3 linked regions of the Homo sapiens genome follow. The protein of the gene in region 3 interacts with the protein of the main gene of each other region in a biochemical or structural test. Each region holds a gene or a part of one and is shown on either strand. Other genes may lie near its edges.

Region 1 (7,575 bases), on a different chromosome or scaffold from region 3:
TGCCCCACCTGCTCTAAGGCCTCTGCCAGGTGCTTATTGAGCTTTTGCTCTCGCTTCCGCAGCTTCTCGATGTCCCACTGCAAGTCCTCCACTGTTGTCTCCATCTCCAGCACCTTGGTCTCTGCCGATGTCACTTTATCCTGGAGCTCGGAGTACTGGGAACAATGAGGGAGCAGATGCTTGGATGGGGGACTTGGTTCCTGAGGTCCCTGAGTGCCCATCTAACCCAAATCCTGCCTGATTCTAATCACACCCCCAAAGCCCCCGGCTCCTCACCTCCAATGAGATGCGGTGGTGTTTCTCCTGCAGCTGAGTGGCCAAGTCCTGCAGTCGCCGGTTCTCACGGCCCAGCTCTCGGGTGTGTGCCTGAGCCGCCTCACTGAGGGGCTCACTGTCCCCTGGGAAGGCAGGGCCCAGGTAAGAGCCCAGCTCAGGGCAATGGGGCAAACAACTAACTCATTCTGGAGTCTGCTATATACCCAGTGTGATCCACCAGCTGTCTTGCCCATTTCTCATGACAAAGCCAGGAGTCTTTATCCCCACTGCACAGAGAAGGAAACCAGCTCAGAGAGGGGAGCCACTTTCCCAGCATGTCCAGGTGAGGGTGGCAGAACTAAGGTGGGAGAAGCCTGTCAACCTACAAGGCCTGAGCCCTTGAAGCTATGCCTTGTGGATCCGCAACCCACACCAAGTGCTCCAGAGGGGCCTCTGGCCAGGAGCCTCTACCGGCATCAACAACTCCTCCAACCCATCTCTCTAGCATTCAATCCCGGAATCAAAGTTGGAACCCCCATCTACAGCCTAACCTACCTCTTCCAAGAACATGGCTGATTTATTCCTTGGGAAATTCTGGCCGCCCTTGGACTCGGGCATTAGGGGAATCAGGAAGGGGTGCCATCAAGATGCAGGTGGGGATGGACACCCCTTCAGTATGGGCACAAAGAACCCACCTCGGCTGTACACTCGCTGACAGAGTTCCTCCACCCGGCGCTGTAGGCGGTCTGAGGCCTCTACCACACGAGACACAGCTGCCTTGGAGAACTCCATTCGGCCTTGCAGCTCCAGCTCCACCTCCTCACTGCTGCTGGCACCCAGTGCCACCACAAAAGCCAAGGCCGGCTCACTGAGAGGGGGCCGCAGCTGCATCAGCAAGGGGTCTGGAAGGAATGGACAGACCCTCATGAGGATAAGAGCAGCAGTTACTACCACTCTGTACCAAGTTCCAGACTGAGCCCTTCAATACTCATGGTTCACTTAATCAACACAACCTATAGTGCACTATTATCTCCATCCTGAAAGTGAGACAAATGAAATTCAGGGAGGTAAAGTAATTTCCTCAAAGCTACAGAGTTGCGTATCACATCCTCAGGGAAGCTTCCTGTACTTTACCAATATAATTAGAATCACACGCACATGCATGCACACACAATCATTCCGTTTCAGGAGCCCCAGTACTTTCTGCTTACTATGTTTATAATTTCCTCCCTTATAGCAAGTGCAACACTCATTTCTAGGAAGCGTCAAATACATATTTAATACTCAACCATAATACTGTTTTGAAACAAATGGGTGTCAAAACATGAATTGCTCTATAAACCAAGTTAGTCAGAGTCTAAAGCCTGTGTTTTTGTGCACTGCACTTTACTGCCCAAACATGAAATCCATTTCGTGAGAAGTAGTAAGATAGGCAATTCAGGGGCCCAACACCAAAGTCCCCTCCTCCCCAGGACTTCTCCCAGAACTTAAGCTCCCCAGATCCCAGCACTCTGGTCCTACCTCTCAGCTCTGATGTCCCCGGCTCTGGGAGAGGAGTCCCATCACATGTTGGCCCCTCCTGGGTCCCAGGTGCCTCAGGCGCTGAAGACAGCTCCCCCTGGCTCTCATGGCATCGGAGAAGGGCTTCCACAGTTTCATCCAGCTGGAAGGAGAAAACATCAAAAATGTTATGAATCCCTTAGTGCTTTCCAACATGATACTCCTTTCCTAGCAGGGGAATCTGGGGATTGGCAGCTGAATCAAGGCCTGGTCTTTGAAAGCAGAAGGTATCCACCTGGGCCCAGTAGCGATTGACGATGAGGAGTGTGGCATCATCTGTGGCCTGCCGCTTCTCCAACTTCTCAATTCGTTCTCGGAGTTCATCTTCACAAGCCTGCCGTTGTTCCAGCCGCTCTGCCAGTTTCTTGTTCTTGAACTGTAGTACCTTCAGGTCCATCTCCTCCTACCAAAGGAAACAAAGGGGCCGACGAGAGCGTCAAGCAGGGCCCACAAACCAATCACAGAGAGAGAAAGAGGAGCAGAGCATCTGCAATGCATGGGAGATGGAGGTATTCCCACACTAACCGCTAACAGAATCTAAGGAGGCTCAGACAACACACAGCGAAAGTGTCTTTGTTGTGAGGAGGCTCACGTTGTTTCTGCCTGTCCCCTTGTAAATCCTTAGTCTTTGACAAGTCACACGCCCCCTGGAAACCTGTTTTCCTATCTGTAAAGGGAAGACAGGCGTCGTGTTCTGAGCTTCTTTCTAACCTTTCTTTCAAGGTCCTGTAACGCGGACCTTGCTAAACTTGGGGAAGTGGGTGTAAGATTCCGCACAGTTTGGCCAGAGAACAGAGGGAGGGCTCTGGGAAGTTCTGAGGGTTAAGGCAAGAGCCCACGAACCGTGGAAGAGATGCCTCCAAGACGAATGGGCTCGATAAGAGTCGTGGTGGTCTTCTCCTCACGACTCAGCTTCTTTTCCGGGGGCCCTGAGCCCCCGTCGCCGGCGGCGCGTTTGTTGCCTGGCCCAGACATGGCCGCGGCGGCTGGAGCGATGCAGGGTCCCCTGAGGGGCGTCAAACGGGAGGAGGCGGTACTTCCGTCACCTGCAGAAGACACAGAGCAGAGATGTGGGAACGGCTGGTGTTCCACAGCCCCAAACACCCTCCACCCTGCACACACCTGCTGGATCCCGTCCCCCCCGGCGCCAGAGCCCTCACCAGCAGGAGGGTCAGCCTAGCGCCGCCATCTTGGATTTCACCGGACGTCACTGGGCGTCACTGGACGCCACTGCCCCCCCCCCAACGGTGCGCAGGGCGCAGGCGCCAAAGGCAGCCCCGGATGTGAGGAAACTTCTTTATCTTCTGCTTCTATTGGTTACGCTTGGTCCCGCCACTCGGGTCCTCTGGCTTCTTCCCAAACACCTCCTCTTTCTCTCGGTGATTGGCCAAGAGGCAGTTCCCATAGTAACTGACACCGCGCTCCCACTTCCCAGCCTGGAGGACAGCACCGGCCCTCGTATTAGCAACCTGGAAGAGAGGGCGCCCAGGTGGGCACTCGCAACTTCTCACGTATCTGCGCGTTCTCTTCGCTCCCACTGGCGTGAGCCTGCGCTTTCCGCCTTCCTTCCCTCACAAGCCCCCTTGGCAACCGTCGCCGTTGAGACGGAGGGAGACGCCCCCACGGATTCGCCCCGCCGCGCCTCTCCGCGCGTAGATTGGCCGGAGCGAGGCGAACGGGCCCGGCCTTGGTAGCCGCCGACCGAGCGCTGGCTGTCCTGGAACCTAGGCGGCGGGAGCCCGGGGCGCCTCGCGGCACGGAAGAGCGGCGAGATGCTCAACCGCAAGACCAGCCACTTTTTGGGAATGAGGGTGCAGTCGGAGCTTGAACATCTCTCCGAGCTGCGGCGGGAAGCGGGGAAGGATCGCAGCTCAGTGCATGGGTCGGCCGCGCGGACGCGTGCGAGTGTGCGGACTCAGTGGACGACGGCGGCGGCGGCGAAAGCGGATGAAGACCCCGGAGCCAACTTGTTTCCGGTGAGGGCGGGACAGTCTGGTCTGCTCGTGAATATTTATAAACCGGCTCCCCCGCAGGCGCCACCTGTCATTATGCTTACTAACGTTCGGGACGTCTCCCGGGCTGCTTGGGCGAGGAGAGGCAGGGGTGTGTGACCCCGGTGGTTACTGTGCTCGCGTAGAGCACCTAGGGCCTGCTGAAGCCCTCCCTCGCCCGCGCCTCTCCTTAGTCCTTGAGATGAGATGGCAAGTTACAGCGGCTTCTCCGGCCTGCTGGAGATTCGCTACGGGCCAGGACACCGCAGCTGCCTTCCCCAATTCGCTTTCTTTCCGCAGCCGCCGCTGCCCCGACCCCGGATCTGCATGTGGTGAGTGTGAAGAGACAAAAATTACACTGAATATTTGCGTTCTTTATTGTCTCCCCAACAGTCCTGTCTGTGGCCAGGGCATCCCCATTTTACAGATGAGACTGAGGCCTGGAGATGCAATTACTCCAGGTGACTGGAAGTTGGCTTTCCAGCCTCTCCAGTCCAAAGAGGAGGCAGTGTGAGAAAAAAAGAGCCAAAGACAGAATGTAAATGGAGTCTCATGGCCGCTAAGGAGTATTGTACAGAGGGGGACACTGAGGGCCACAGGGAGTACTTGACCAAGGTCATACAAGGTAGTGGCAGAGCAGAAAAAAGAATTCAAGATTCCTAACCCTAGGCTTTAGAAATGGAGAGGCTCATAAGAGTTCATTTAGGCCCAGAGAGTTAACGATTTGCATAGTCACACAGCAAGCTGGCAAAAGAGCCCAGCTTCACGCCGGTGGCCAACTCCCAGTCTCACGCACTAGCTGTCACAGCCTTGTCATGATAGGTAACGGCCACCAATACTCTTTTTCTTTTACTATAACAGGAAGTACCTGGACGTCCATTCCATGCACCAGCTGGAGAAGACCACCAATGCTGAGATGAGGGAGTAGGGACTGAGGGGGGCGTGGGAAGAGCTCTTGGCAAAGGCTGAGGGGTCAGGTTGGGAAAACATGAGGAATGGCTGACTCCAAAGCATGTGGTGGGTGTAGGGTGATGAAAGGAGGCCCAGTTGTCACTCACTCCTCTCTCCCTCCCAAGGGTGCTGGCTGAGCTGCTGGAGCTAGGGTGTCCTGAGCAGAGCCTGAGGGACGCCATCACCCTGGACCTCTTCTGCCACGCGCTCATTTTCTGCCGCCAGCAGGGCTTCTCACTGGAGCAGACGTCAGCGGCTTGTGCCCTGCTCCAGGATCTTCACAAGGCTTGTATTGGTGAGAGGGGGCAGCTACCAGGTTTGAGCCCCAGGGAGAAGAGGAACCGGGCCTGGCACAAGTGACCATGGGAAGCAGAAGCAGGGGATTTCTGCCTGGAATATGTCATTATTAGTAGCATCATCATACACAAGCCATCAGCTTTCCAATCCACTGCTTCCTTATCTAGAAATTAAGGATACAGCACACATTTTACAGGACTGTTCTGAGAAATAATATATGCAAATATATGCATAGTGCACAATAACACCTGCTTTAGAATGTTTAATAGCTCTTGCTTCAGAATGTTTAATAGCTGAAATGATCTATTTCTTGGTTTATTCCCCTAGAATATAAGCTTCGTAAGGGCAGGACCTTGTCTGTCTTGTTCAGTGCCGAAAACCATACAGTGGGCATATAGTGGGTATTCAGTATTTGTTACATGAGTTAAGGAAACAAGCCAGTGCTGAAACCCAGATCTGTCTGCTTCTGAAGCTCATGGTCATAAACAGCTGTTGAGTGAAGTGAATGAATGGATACCAGAGAGGGCCTCACTGCTGCATCTTGCTTTCCCTACCAGCAACCCCCTTGGGCAACGTGGAGGAGTGCTACCGCTACTTCACCAGTGTCCTTTTTTGCCATGGAGTCAGGGTCAGTTCCCCTGGAACATTCTGGAAACTTTACCCATCCCCAGACAAGGTCTCACCCAGTCTCTCTCACATTCATCACCCTTATCTTCTTGTGAAGACCCCAGTGGGCTCTCCTTGCTCCTGTTGCTGGGCTTTTGGAGGCAAAGCCAGGGCTCCGGAAGGTAGTCAGGGTTCTAATTCCGAGTCACCACCACAGCGGCCTCCTTTCAGCATCGACCTCTTCAAAGAGGAACAGCTGCTGGCCTTGGAAGACTACGTGGTCAACACTTACTTCCGCCACTTCAAGCTCTATAAATACGTCTTCACACCCCAGGTAGGGGGTGGTGGACCATGAGGAGCCACCCTCAACCGCCCCTCCCCTCAGCACAGGTGCACTCCTTTCAGCCTCCCTCTGCCTTGCTTCCCAGGTGCGGCTGGATCTGTCTTTGACTTACATGGGGCTACAGCCACCCAAACTGTGGCCAGAGAGTGAGACGGGTAAGGGAGAGTGCCAGGGCAGGGCTGGGCTGGGCCAGGCCTGGGGCCACAGTCTCTTCCTGCTTCTGGTTTGCAGAGAAAGAAGAAAGCAAGGAGATGGAGGAGCAGGCAGTTACCCCGCAGAAAGAGGAACTAGAGACAGTGGCCCCACCAGAGCCAGAGCCAAGTGAGGATCTGGAGAGGGCAGGCTGCCCTGTCCCTCTGAGCAGGTGTAGAATGAAGGGTTTGGATGACATCAGGACTTCAGACTTTTTGTTTTTAGTCAGAGTCCTTTCTCTAAATGATCCCTTATGCAGAAGTCCAAGATGACAGATAAAAGCACAGCTGCAGGCCAGGCGTGGTGGCTCACACCTGTAATCCCAGCACAATCTGAGGCAGGCGGATTGCCTGAGCTCAGGAGTTCGCGACCAGCCTGGGCAACACCGTGAAACCCCCTATCTACTAAAATACAAAAAATAGCCAGGCATGGTGGTGCGCGCTTGTAGTCCCAGCTACTCAGGAGGCTGAGGCAGGAGAACTGCATGAACCCAGGAGGTGGAGACTGCAGTGAGCCAAGATCTGGCCACTGCACTCCAGCCTGGGCAACAGAGCAAGACTCTGTCTCAAAACAAACAAACAAACAAACAAAAAGCACAGCTGAAGTGGCTCCAGAGAAATGATCATTAGAAAGCCAATGACGGTGGCTTAAAACCTATATGATGGGTTGATGGGTAAAGCAAACCACCATGGCCCATGTATACCTACGTAGCAAACCTGCATGTTCTGCTCGTATCCCAGAACTTAAGAGTTAAAAAAAAACAAAGAACAGGCCAGGTGCAGTGGCTCACAACTGTAATCCCAGCACTTTGGGAGGCTGAGGCAGGCGGATCACGAGGTCAGGAGATCGAGTCCATCCTGGCTAACACTGTGAAACCCCGTCTCTACTAAAAATACAAAAAGTTAGCCGGGCGTGGTGGCGGGTGCCTGTAGTCCCAGCTACTGGGAGGCTGAGGCAGGAGAATGGCATGAACCTGGGAGGCAGAGCTTGCAGTGAGCTGAGATCGCTGCCACTGCACTCCAGCCTGGGGGATAAAGCAAGACTCCATCTCAAAAAAAAAAAAAAAAAGAGAAAGCCAATGACAATAACAGCCAGCACATACTTGGCAATAGGTGTGCAGTGCATGCCCTGCTCTAAGCATTTTACATAAATTAACTCATTTAATCCTCCCTCAATCCTATGTGCTAGGTATCACTATCCACATTTCATACAAGGAAACTGAGGCACAGATAGGTTAAATAACCTGCCTAAGGTCACACAGCTACTGAGTAGGGATCAGAATTTGAAGCTGCAAAGTCCAGCATAGCCACCCTACCCAACTACCTCTCACACAAGGGCTTGCTAACATTTCCTAAAGGGAAACAACATTGCTACCTCTAT
Region 2 (7,033 bases), on a different chromosome or scaffold from region 3:
ATTTTACAATTTTACTCCCTCATGTGCAATTAATCTCTCATTCATTCAGCTGTCATTCATAGAGTGGCAGTAGGTCTTTACTCTGGTAGGTACTGGGCATATAAAGATGAGATGACAAAATTCCTGCCCTCACAGATCTTGTAGTCTGCAGTAATGGGAGAATAGTATCCATTAGAATGCAATGTGGTACAATGGCAGCATAGCCAAAAGATGTGATACATGAGAAAAGAGTGTCTGATTTGACTGTGGAAGTTTCCTGATTCCACTTAAAAAAGTAAGGTATAAATATTAAGGATAAATTATTGGTAGTTGAAAGTAGGAGAAGAAGAATTCCCGGCATGAGAACAGCACATATAAAGGTATGAGAGAGCATGAGAAATAGTTTAATATGGCTAGAGCTTACGTGTATGTGAGAAAATAGTGGGTAGAAGCTGCAAAATTACTTACATTTCTTAAACAAAAAGCATATAATGGCACCAGTAGATGATTTTTTTAAAAGATAGAAACTTTTATTCATATGTTCATTTCTGTATCTTCCATAGTTTTTAAGGTAATGGTTATAATAGTTGGTCTTTTAATATATGCCTGACAAATGAATTGAATACTATTTTACATATGTTTATATACTGTTTTATAGTTTAGTTCTCCAACTAAATTCTAATATTCTCAGAATTGGTGGCCATTTTCTTTATTTTTCAGTATCCTGTCAGTTTCCAAATTAGTCTTTTGTAGATATCTGGTTTCATTACGTATAGATTGAACTGGAAATTTTCAGAGTAATCCATAGAATATGATGATATTTCTACATTTTAATAAGAATTTTTTTATTGGTTCCTTTATCTGTGTGTAGCGAGATGAGGTTAGTCTTCATAAGAAGCTGAGGACTGAAGTAATTCAGCTAGAAGATACATTGGCCCAGGTCCGCAAGGAGTATGAAATGCTGAGGATAGAATTTGAGCAGACCCTTGCTGCCAATGAACAAGCAGGTATAATGATTCTCACTCCATGCTGTAGTTTGCTCTTAATACCTTCCTTGAAAGATACAACACAGACCCCAGGGTTTGTTAATGCTGACTTCAACTCAGAAGTCATAAGTACCTTAAATCCTATAATTCATTTTGGTTCACAGCCTGGATGTTTGTTTTTTAACTCAAGTTGACCAGTTTTGTTTTCATCTTCTGAGAAGGAATCTTTTATTTGGTAATTCTCCCTATTTCTCAGTGCCTCCTGATGTGTTCTGTTCTTTCTCTCCTTGTGCCTTTGCCCTTACCACGGTTCCTCATAACATTGTTGTTCCTGTATTTAAGGCCCTATAAACAGGGAGATGCGCCACCTCATCAGTAGCCTCCAGAATCACAATCACCAGCTGAAAGGGGAGGTCCTGAGATATAAGCGGAAATTGAGAGAAGCCCAGTCTGACCTGAACAAGGTAACCAGAGGGAATAGAATAAATATCATTTGCTATTAATGTCGTAAAGCTGCTTTTGAATGAGGTCGGCAATGTGGTTATCATAAGAGATGTGCATCTTTCTTTTCTTTATTCTCCCAGACACGCCTGCGTAGTGGTAGTGCCCTCCTGCAGTCCCAGTCTAGTACTGAGGACCCGAAGGATGAGCCTGCGGAGCTAAAACCAGATTCTGAGGACTTATCCTCCCAGTCCTCAGCTTCAAAGGCATCTCAGGAGGATGCCAATGAAATCAAGTCTAAACGGGATGAAGAAGAACGAGAACGAGAAAGGAGGGAGAAGGAGAGGGAACGAGAAAGAGAACGGGAGAAGGAGAAGGAGAGAGAACGAGAGAAGCAGAAGCTAAAAGAGTCAGAAAAAGAGAGAGATTCTGCTAAGGATAAAGAGAAAGGCAAACATGATGATGGACGGAAAAAGGAAGCAGAAATTATCAAACAATTGAAGATTGAACTCAAGTAAGAACCACATTTAGAGTAACAGTTTCGACTGAAAAGCTAAGATTAAGACATCATGCATGAAATGTTTGGTTGATGGCATGGCTTGTCTGATCGTTTTAATGTTTTAGATTGTACAATTAATTTGGTTTCAAGTCGTGTTCAAGTGCACAGCCAAAATGGCTTGCATGGCTATTTAGTACTTTGGTTCAGTGATCGAGTATCAGCAAACCGATGATGGTAGCCTTATTTTTATGAATCCAAATTAAGGAAAAGGATGTCATGATTGAGGTAATACTTCTGAGAATTATTGGGAATTAACTACTGCTCTTCACTGGATTTGAGCAGATTGCTGGCGTTAATTGTAATTTAAATGATATTAAGTGGAGTATTTATATATCACTGTAACTTGAACAATATCTGATCTATTTGCCTGAGAGTTAACTGGTTTGTGAATATGCCATATCTTTCTTAGGAGATTTACTCCTATACACATTGACACACTAAGATAGACCTTTAACTTGTTGAATTTTTCTGTGTCATAACCTTATGCATTGGCCCTTCTCCTGTATAACCAATAACTTCTCTGGCAGAACGGCTTACTTCTTGCTCCTTACTTTCTATGGTTGATCCTTTGTTGATGTTTGGACTTGAGAGACCACTGTGCTCAAAATGCTTGAACTCTTTTGGTATATAAAAGTATAGTTAAGAGGTTTAGTAATTTAATAAGAGGTGAAGTTTTAGTCTTTGGCTGATGGTTAATCACTCAGCTGTCAAATCTAGGATTAACAGTATATCTCAGACTTTCAAATTTTTCCCTTTTATTTCTCCCTCTTGAACTCTTTAAGGCAATTTTTTTTTTTTCTGGTGTGGTATCAGAATCATCTGAGTGACTTGTTTAAATCACTTGTTTAAATTTTTGAACTCCATCCCCAGACCTACTGAATCTCAGTTACCCAGGGTTGGGGGCCACAGAAATTTGCCTATATAACAAGTACACAAATGTCTGTTTTATAACTTTGTTAGAGGACTTTGAAGGGAGAAATGATTCATTTTTATACAGCTTACTTTTCTGTACTTTCTAAGCATATCCAAAAGTCTTTTGATAGTCTGTGCAAAATTTTATCTTTTAGGTGTGATATGAAATGTAAAATGAAACTGTTTTAAAATATTCTGCTCAATCAAAATTCCCTTGCTCTGATGACCTTTATTTTCTTATTACATTGTTCCCCTCCCTCTACTACGCCTGTCATAGGAAGGCACAGGAGAGCCAAAAGGAGATGAAACTATTGCTGGATATGTACCGTTCTGCCCCAAAGGAACAGAGAGACAAAGTTCAGCTGATGGCAGCTGAGAAGAAGTCTAAGGCAGAGGTATTCTAGTCTGCTATTACCTGTCCTTCTGGTTAAAATCTTCATTTGTGGGATTTTCCTTTATACTTGCCAACGATATAATTTCTTTCTTTATCTTTAAAATAAGTGTTTAAGTGCAACATTTTCTGCCTTTTCAAAGACCATCTGAAGTAGAGATTTTAAAACTCTCCATAGGATGGTAAAATATATCTGAATTACTGGGGTTATGAGTAGGCTTTCCAAAGTATGTATTCCTTGTTTTTCCTATGTAATTCATTGCTACAGGGATAATCTTTTTCATTACTTTTGGGAGGAATGTCTTATGCTCTTAAAATTTTGAGGCCTAAAAAAAAGGATGGGAACCACTATTCTAAAGAAAGTTACCTGTGCACTTCTCAAAAGTGTTGCTTATAGAAGCATGTCATAGTAGAATGGAGTGATGTTAAAACAGATGGTGTTATGTAATGTTTTAGTATATTATGTACCTTGTTCTATAATTCTGTAAAGACTCTTTTGGTATTATGAACCTTCTATCTTTGCACAGTATTAATTGATTTTTGAAAATGTGTTATAACTTTTTATTTTTGTGCAATTCCTTTCCTCTTATAGTTGGAAGATCTAAGGCAAAGACTCAAGGATCTGGAAGATAAAGAGAAGAAAGAGAACAAGAAAATGGCTGATGAGGATGCCTTGAGGAAGATCCGGGCAGTGGAGGAGCAGATAGAATACCTACAGAAGAAGCTAGCCATGGCCAAGCAGGTGGACTCACTTTCTTTATTTAATTGACTTTTTGAGTAAATGTTACTTGACAATAAGTTATTGCCAGTGAAATTTGCTTTTTTATTTTGGTCTTTTTTTGATTGTTAATGTGTATTTTTCCTTTTTGTGTGTGTGTTTTAATTCTTACCTTCAAGTCTTTTATCTTTCTGTTATTTTGTTTTGTGTATTTGTGAGGCAAGAAATTTACTTTTATTTAAATGGACATTTATTGAAGATCTAGTCTTTCTCTGCTGTTGTTCAGACAGTTATTGAAGATCTAGTCTTTCTTTGCTGACCTGGAATTAAGGGTTATAGTGAATATAAAATGAAAAATAAGACATAAGATTTTATATACATTATGATTACAAATATATGAAACTAAGAAAACTATGCTTATAAATATATATCATTATATATTTCTATGTAGTACATATACTACACAGAAAAACTATGCTTATAAATATGTGATTTATATATAATAAGGATATAATCTATTAACCAATATAATAACATTGATTAAGCAGTATGTTAACTATGGCTATTTTGGGGTCATAGAACTATAGAGATTGTTCTCCTCCTTATAATGAATATGTATGTATTTTTAAATGCCAGGGAATTTTTATTAAAATTCAATAATAAAGATACTGAAAATGCTTGAAAAAACCATATATGTATTCTCTGTTAGTACACCTTCATTGTTTCTAAGAAATAGCAAAATAACAGTGAGATGGAGTAGGTTTAATGGTAAGTTGATCATGAAGTGCCTTGAAAAGAAGAACTTCATTAGATCCTATACACATTCCTTTTGTTAACAAGTGTAATTTTGGGCTGGGCGCGGTGGCTCATGCCTGTAATCCCAGCACTTTGGGAGGCCGAGGTGGATGGATCACCTGAAGTCGGGAGTTCAAGACCAGCCTGACCAACATGGAGAAACCCCATCACTATTAAAAAAAAAAAAAAACAAAATTAGCTGGGCTTGGTGGCGCATGCCTGTAATCCCAGCTACTTGGGAGGCTGAGGCAGGAGAATTGCTGGAACCCAGGAGTGGAGGTTGCAGTGAGCCGAGATGGCGCCATTGCACTCCAGCCTGGGCAACAAGAGCAAAACTCCATCTCAAAAAAAAAAAAAGTGTAATTTTGACTTTTCTTAAATCTGGTAAATGCCACTTTTTTTTTTCTTCCCTCTCTCTTAAGGTAATTATCAGGAAATTATACTATTATAGGTTCTAGAACAAGTAAAAAGAAAGACACTATGTTCTTGTATACGATGACTATCTTAAAAATGTTCAGTCTTTCTAAGTTTATGTATTAATATAATGTGATCTCATAAAAGTGCTTTTTTTAAGTTTTGCTTTTGTTTATTTTGGTACTAGAAGAACTGGTTTTAAAGTACATGTGGAGAAGTAAACAAGAGTAACAAGAGAAATTGAAAAAGAACAGCACTGGGGTCTCTTCCATATATTAAAACATAAAGTTTCTGTAGATGAAATAGCTTGGGACTACTAGACAGGCTATTAGAACTGAATAGAAACTTGAGAAGTAGTTGAAAGTACACATGATACTTATTATGTGCTAAATACATAGTTTTAAATCAGTGGGGAAAAGAAAAACTGTGACATGTGATGGGACAAAATTAAAAAAAATAATGTTAGAGAAAAGTTAGATACATACTTGAATACACTAGGATGATTTCCAAATGGATCATAGATATGATATTTTAAAAAATGCATCCATCAAAAAGCTAGAAGAAAACCATTAAATTCCTTTATAATTTGGAGTGGAGACCTTTCTATGAATAAAAGGCTAGAAAACATGAACAAAAAATTGATAATTTTGAGTTATTTTTTAAAATGATGCAAAACTTCTACACTGCAAAAAACACTGTTAGCAAAGCCAAAAGATTAAATGACAAAAAGTAAAAAATATTTTTAACTTTTATTACAAAGAAGGCTTATCTGATACAAAAAAAACTCTCCAAAATAGGGAAAAAAACTCAAGAATCCAGTGGAAGAATAGGCAAAAGAAATGAGTTGGTTATGGAAAGAATACAAGTGGTCTTAACCATATGAAAAGATGCTCAGTCTCACTTAAAATGAGATAGATATAAAGTAAAGCTATTATTAGATACCAGTCTTCACCTATCAGATTGTTACAAGGCTTTAGATGTTTGCAACTGCTGGAAATCCTGTAGATCCAGTATTTTAATTGTGGAAAAGCATGAGAAAATGTGAGAGGTTATGATGGAAGTACTCTTAACCAATTGCTGCTTGATCCGTTTGTCTAGATTAAGGTAAATACAATTATTGTCTAATTTAACTGACGTTGAGTACAGATCAACTAATAAGTATCAGACCAACAATTGGTGCCAGTGACTTCAGATAATAGAGCTTCTGTATGCCTAGTGACAAAACACAACTTCTTAAAACTCTGTCACTAAATTAATTTATATCTAAATGAACAGTGGGAAAATTTAGTTTCCTGTGCTCTTCCATTGAAGTTGGAAGATTCTTCTAAAATCAAATCTCTTCCTTCATCCTTTAGGAAGAAGAAGCACTCCTCTCTGAAATGGATGTCACAGGCCAGGCCTTTGAAGACATGCAGGAGCAAAATATCCGTTTGATGCAGCAATTGCGGGAGAAGGATGATGCAAATTTCAAGCTCATGTCAGAGCGTATCAAGTCCAATCAGATCCATAAGTTGCTTAAAGAAGAGAAGGAGGAGCTGGCAGACCAGGTGTTGACTCTGAAGACTCAGGTAATTAGGATGAGTAGAGCTTTCTATTCTGTTGAAATAGGGTGCTTTCTACATGATGATATAAGTAAAAGAATGATTATTGTGGCACATTTTTGTGATTGGAAAAAAATTTGAAAACTAAATGTTCATCATTAGGGTATTGGTAAATAAATTATACATCTCTACTGTTATTCCTACAAAAGAGTACAGTGTACTTGTCAAATATGGATCTGCTAATATGGAAACATGTCTGAAATAAAATCAAGTGACGTGTTTTGTTATCCTTTTTGC
Region 3 (4,073 bases):
CTACTTGGGATCCAGTCTGCAGTCCCTTTCCTGATTGTGTAAGTTACATGTTCTCACAGGTCAAACCTAATTTGTGTCCATGAAGCATAGCCAAGGGTTGTGGAAAAGAAAAAATGGCTTGGAAAAACCATAGGAACCTAAAGAAACTGCCAAGTGTAGATAAGCATTGAGTATGTTACCCCATCCAAGAAATTCTATTTTAAAAAAAGAAAGGAAAACTAATGTAACCATTTGTCGAAGCAGTCTGGCAGAATATTTCAGAATAGATCTTTGAATGAAAATTTAGGAGGGGTGGAGTGAGGGGTGTTTCGGTTTTGTGGATTTGAGAGGAGCAGAAATAATATGTTGGTTTGTGATGTTCTTTTTAAAGTTTTTTCTCTCACACTTCTTTAATTGTTTTTTTTTTTTTTTTTTTTTTTGAGACAGTGTCTTGCTCTGTTGCCCAGACTGGAGTGCAATGGCACAATCTTGGCTCACCGCAACCTCTGCCTCCCGGGTTCAAGTGATTATCCTGCCTCAGCCTCCTGAGTAGCTAGGACTATAGGCACATGCTACCACGCCTGGCTAAGTTTTTGTATTTTTAGTAGAGATGGGGTTTCACAGTGTTAGCCAGGATGGTCTCCATCTGACCTCATGATCCGCCCGTCTGAGCCTCCGAAAGTGTTGGGATTACAGGCGTGAGCTACTGCACCAGGCCAGTTCTGGTCATCTTACAAGCGTTGTTTTTCAACCTTCCTATCTCATTCTCTTCCTGCTAAATGTATATGTTTTGTTGATTAAAGGAAATAAGACTTATCTCCCAAATTTACTGTCAAGACATTTGCAAAGTAACTGCAGTAATAGAGTTTAACCTTGGAAAATGTTGGTTACTGAGAATTATTGATATCTTAACCAAATTAAGCTGTTTATTTCCTTGGTTTAATGAGAACGTCTCAATATGCTTAAGAATATTCTTTTCTGATTTCTTTCAAATTATAGGTATTTTTTTCTTTTCTTTTTTCTTTTTTTTTTTTTTGAGACGGAATTTCACCCTTGTTGCCCAGGCTGGAGTACAGTGGCGCGATCTCAGCTCACTGCAACCTCTGCCTCCCGGGTTCAAGCAATTCTCCTGCCTCAGCCTTCCGAGTAGCGGATTACGGGCATGCGCCACCACACCCGGCTAATTTTGTATTTTTAGAAATTACGGGGTTTTCTCCATGTTGGTCAGGCTGGTCTCGAACTCCCTACCTCAGGTGATCTGCCCGCCTCGGCCTCCCACAGTGCTGGGATTACAGGCGTGAGCCACCACACCCGACCTCTTTTTCTTTTTTAATAGAAACAGGGTCTCCCTATGTTGCCCAGGCTGGGCTTGAACTGCTGGGCTCAAGGGATCCTCCTGCCTTGGCCTCCCAAAGTGTTAGGATTACAGGCACAAGCCACTGTACCCAGCTGAAATTATAGGTCTTAAGGCAATTGAGAACTTTATTTCAGAAGCTTAAGTTCCTTAGCAGCAGGAAACCCCATAGTATTTATCAAATCATTTCTAAAAGTATTTAGACCCAAAATTATATGACATGTTAATCTCTGAAGTAATTTGTTGTTTTGTATAACTTTTCTGTAATATATTCCATATCTGACCCCTGTTGGTATAAAGAACAACTATGCAAATCTGTTTTTTCTTTTCTTTCCTCCTAGTCTCTGCTGGATGAACCGAATCCTAACAGTCCAGCCAATAGCCAGGCAGCACAGCTTTATCAGGAAAACAAACGAGAATATGAGAAAAGAGTTTCGGCCATTGTTGAACAAAGCTGGAATGATTCATAATAGACAACTGGTCTGTTAATCTTTTTCATCATTGTTGTGTATAATTTACCTCTCATTAGAAAGGCTAACAAATTTTAAGTGCCACAGGTTTTAAGGATTCTGCAGAAAAAAAAGAAAAAAGTCCTTCAGTTTAGAACCTACAAAAGCTTGTGTATCTTGATTAATGTACTTTTTATTGCATGGTGTGAACTAAGTTATTGCTGCATAAATTTGTAATATATCCTGTTTGTATTTTTTTCCAAGTGTATAATGTTGGTGTGGAGTTTTCATGACAGAATATACACATTTTGTAAATCTGTACTTTTTTCAAATATTGAATGCCTTATTTTTGAATTCTTTAGATTTTTAAATTGGAGAAAAGCACTTAAAGTTTTTTATATATGAATATTACATGTAAAGCTGTTAAAATACATAACTTCAGTGCAAGAGACTTTGTCACTTATTTCCTTATGTGTGTAGGAGGGGTTAATAAGTCTCTAGCTCTCCATCTATTGATAGTTTCATTTACAATTTCAAAAGAACATTCTTATATTTTATCAAGGAAGTCTTCAAATTTGATTCTAAATAGCGATTATAATCTCCAACTTTATTTTGAATGTACCTCTATTAGTTTCAATTGAGTAATTCTAGACATAACTGGTTTGACTCTGTCCAACTCTGTATTTAGGCCATTTGTTACAGTTTCTTCATGCATTACTTACTGTTAAAACTGTACCTTTTGCGATTTCACAGTTGGCACTTCTGCCATGAGCAGAGAACTGATGCGACTTGTTTTGCTGCTTGGTAGCACTTTAAAAAATTTTTTGATTAATGAAGAAAGTAAAACCATAAACATTTGCCAAAAATTCATGCCCCAGTATTAGCAATGAATTAGTTGCATTGGTTTGAGAAAGGCACATATTGGAGGGAAATCTTGGTGTAACTTAAATATTTGAAAATTACCTTTAATGCAATGCATATCTGTTTATTCTGGGAAATGTTTTAATGCCAGGGCCTGCTGAGTTGCTTCTTCTTGTGGAGATTTTTTTTTTAATCTCCTGAGTTGTATAAAAGTTGTACTGCATCTTAGTTTACTGGATAAATTTAAAACACAGTATTGTAGAAAGCTAATACAAAACTATCCTATGCCTTCAAATAGTATAGAAAATGGAAAATATACAAGTAAATTCTGTTGAACCACCTGTGTAGTCTCTCTAGTAGTTAAAACAGCTATTTTAGTAACCCCAAGAGTTTCTTCTCATATCCATAAAATTGGATTACAGTATGGCAATATCTACAGCTTCTATTCATTATGCAACGTTTAACATTGATTGGATAAATGCTTATAGGCTGGGCCAGGTGGCTCCCACCTGTAGTCCCAGCACTTTGGGAGGCAAAGGCGGGAGGATCACTTGAGGCCAGGACTTTGAGACCAGCCAGGGCAACATAATAAGACTTTTCTCTACTTTAAATTTTTTAAAAAATTAGTTGGGCATAGTGGCACTTGCCTGTAGTCTCAGCTACTTAGGAGGCTGAGGTGGCAGAATAGCTTATGCCTAGGAGGTTGAGGCTGCAGTGAGCTGTGATTATGCCATTGCACTCCAGCCTGGGTGACAGAGCAATACCCTGTCTTTAAAAATAAAAGCTATTACTTGGCAAATTCTGAGGTAAGTGTATGATCTTAGGGAACTTTGATACAAATGGGAATTCACTCACTGGAATCGTGGCTCCCAAAAAGATGCTTTAATTGTGTGGTGCTTTTATAGTTTAGCTCCAAAACAAACTATAGACATTCACTCCAGTAACTCCTAGATTAAATATACAGTAGCTATGAGGGTCTGCCCTCTTATTTCATTAAATGCTATTTGGTTACTATTTCAACATCCATTTTTATCCTTGACCTGTTTTTGCCTTTCCCAGTTTAAAACAGGAAAATTTCAAGTATTGGTAGATAATTATAAAGAAGTTACATGTTACTTTACAGGGAGGTCAGTGAGTTCTAACTCCAAAATTCAACATATGCATAAAACTCATAGCATCCACATTCCTTTTCGAGAAAATCCTTAAGAAGGTTCAATCTATACATAACTCCTCACTTTTTTCTGCAGCCTTGGAACAGATTCCTATTTCTTTGGTTAAGTACCAGATATAAACCTTCGATTTACAAGGTTGAGTCATACAAAAAGTGTTTACTTTAAACTCTAGGTCAGTTTCATAAATGTATGGTAGGGCAAGAAGCTAGAACTAAAATGTTTATGTTGGTACAAAGTTATATTGATGGATTCATGTTA

Evidence for each region. Proteins that work in one complex are often made in the same cells at the same time.
Region 1: the proteins of UBE2B (region 3) and RNF40 form a complex in vitro, tested with the Homo sapiens proteins (3 studies listed by BioGRID).
Region 2: the proteins of UBE2B (region 3) and RNF20 form a complex in vitro, tested with the Homo sapiens proteins (4 studies listed by BioGRID, with this or other methods).

What each region holds. Positions count from the first base shown.
Region 1 is NC_000016.10:30,757,761-30,765,335, reverse strand, and holds the start of RNF40 (E3 ubiquitin-protein ligase BRE1B), read right to left. Parts: upstream 3,015-7,575; 5' UTR 2,976-3,014; exon of another isoform or gene 2,938-2,975; intron 2,862-2,937; 5' UTR 2,791-2,861; coding exon 2,659-2,790; intron 2,219-2,658; coding exon 2,051-2,218; intron 1,919-2,050; coding exon 1,777-1,918; intron 1,158-1,776; coding exon 951-1,157; intron 399-950; coding exon 277-398; intron 156-276; coding exon 9-155; intron 1-8. Other genes in the region: CFAP119 (cilia- and flagella-associated protein 119), read left to right, coding at 3,588-3,791, 4,107-4,138, 4,668-4,730, 4,883-5,052, 5,612-5,994, 6,089-6,158, 6,235-6,324.
Region 2 is NC_000009.12:101,550,834-101,557,866, forward strand, and holds part of RNF20 (E3 ubiquitin-protein ligase BRE1A), read left to right. Parts: intron 1-850; coding exon 851-986; intron 987-1,307; coding exon 1,308-1,429; intron 1,430-1,549; coding exon 1,550-1,920; intron 1,921-3,154; coding exon 3,155-3,272; intron 3,273-3,860; coding exon 3,861-4,010; intron 4,011-6,550; coding exon 6,551-6,763; intron 6,764-7,033. UniProt on the Homo sapiens protein: Component of the RNF20/40 E3 ubiquitin-protein ligase complex that mediates monoubiquitination of 'Lys-120' of histone H2B (H2BK120ub1).
Region 3 is NC_000005.10:134,388,551-134,392,623, forward strand, and holds the end of UBE2B (ubiquitin-conjugating enzyme E2 B), read left to right. Parts: intron 1-1,674; coding exon 1,675-1,803; 3' UTR 1,804-3,558; downstream 3,559-4,073. UniProt on the Homo sapiens protein: E2 ubiquitin-conjugating enzyme that accepts ubiquitin from the ubiquitin-activating enzyme E1 and transfers it to a E3 ubiquitin-protein ligase. In vitro catalyzes 'Lys-11'-, as well as 'Lys-48'- and 'Lys-63'-linked polyubiquitination.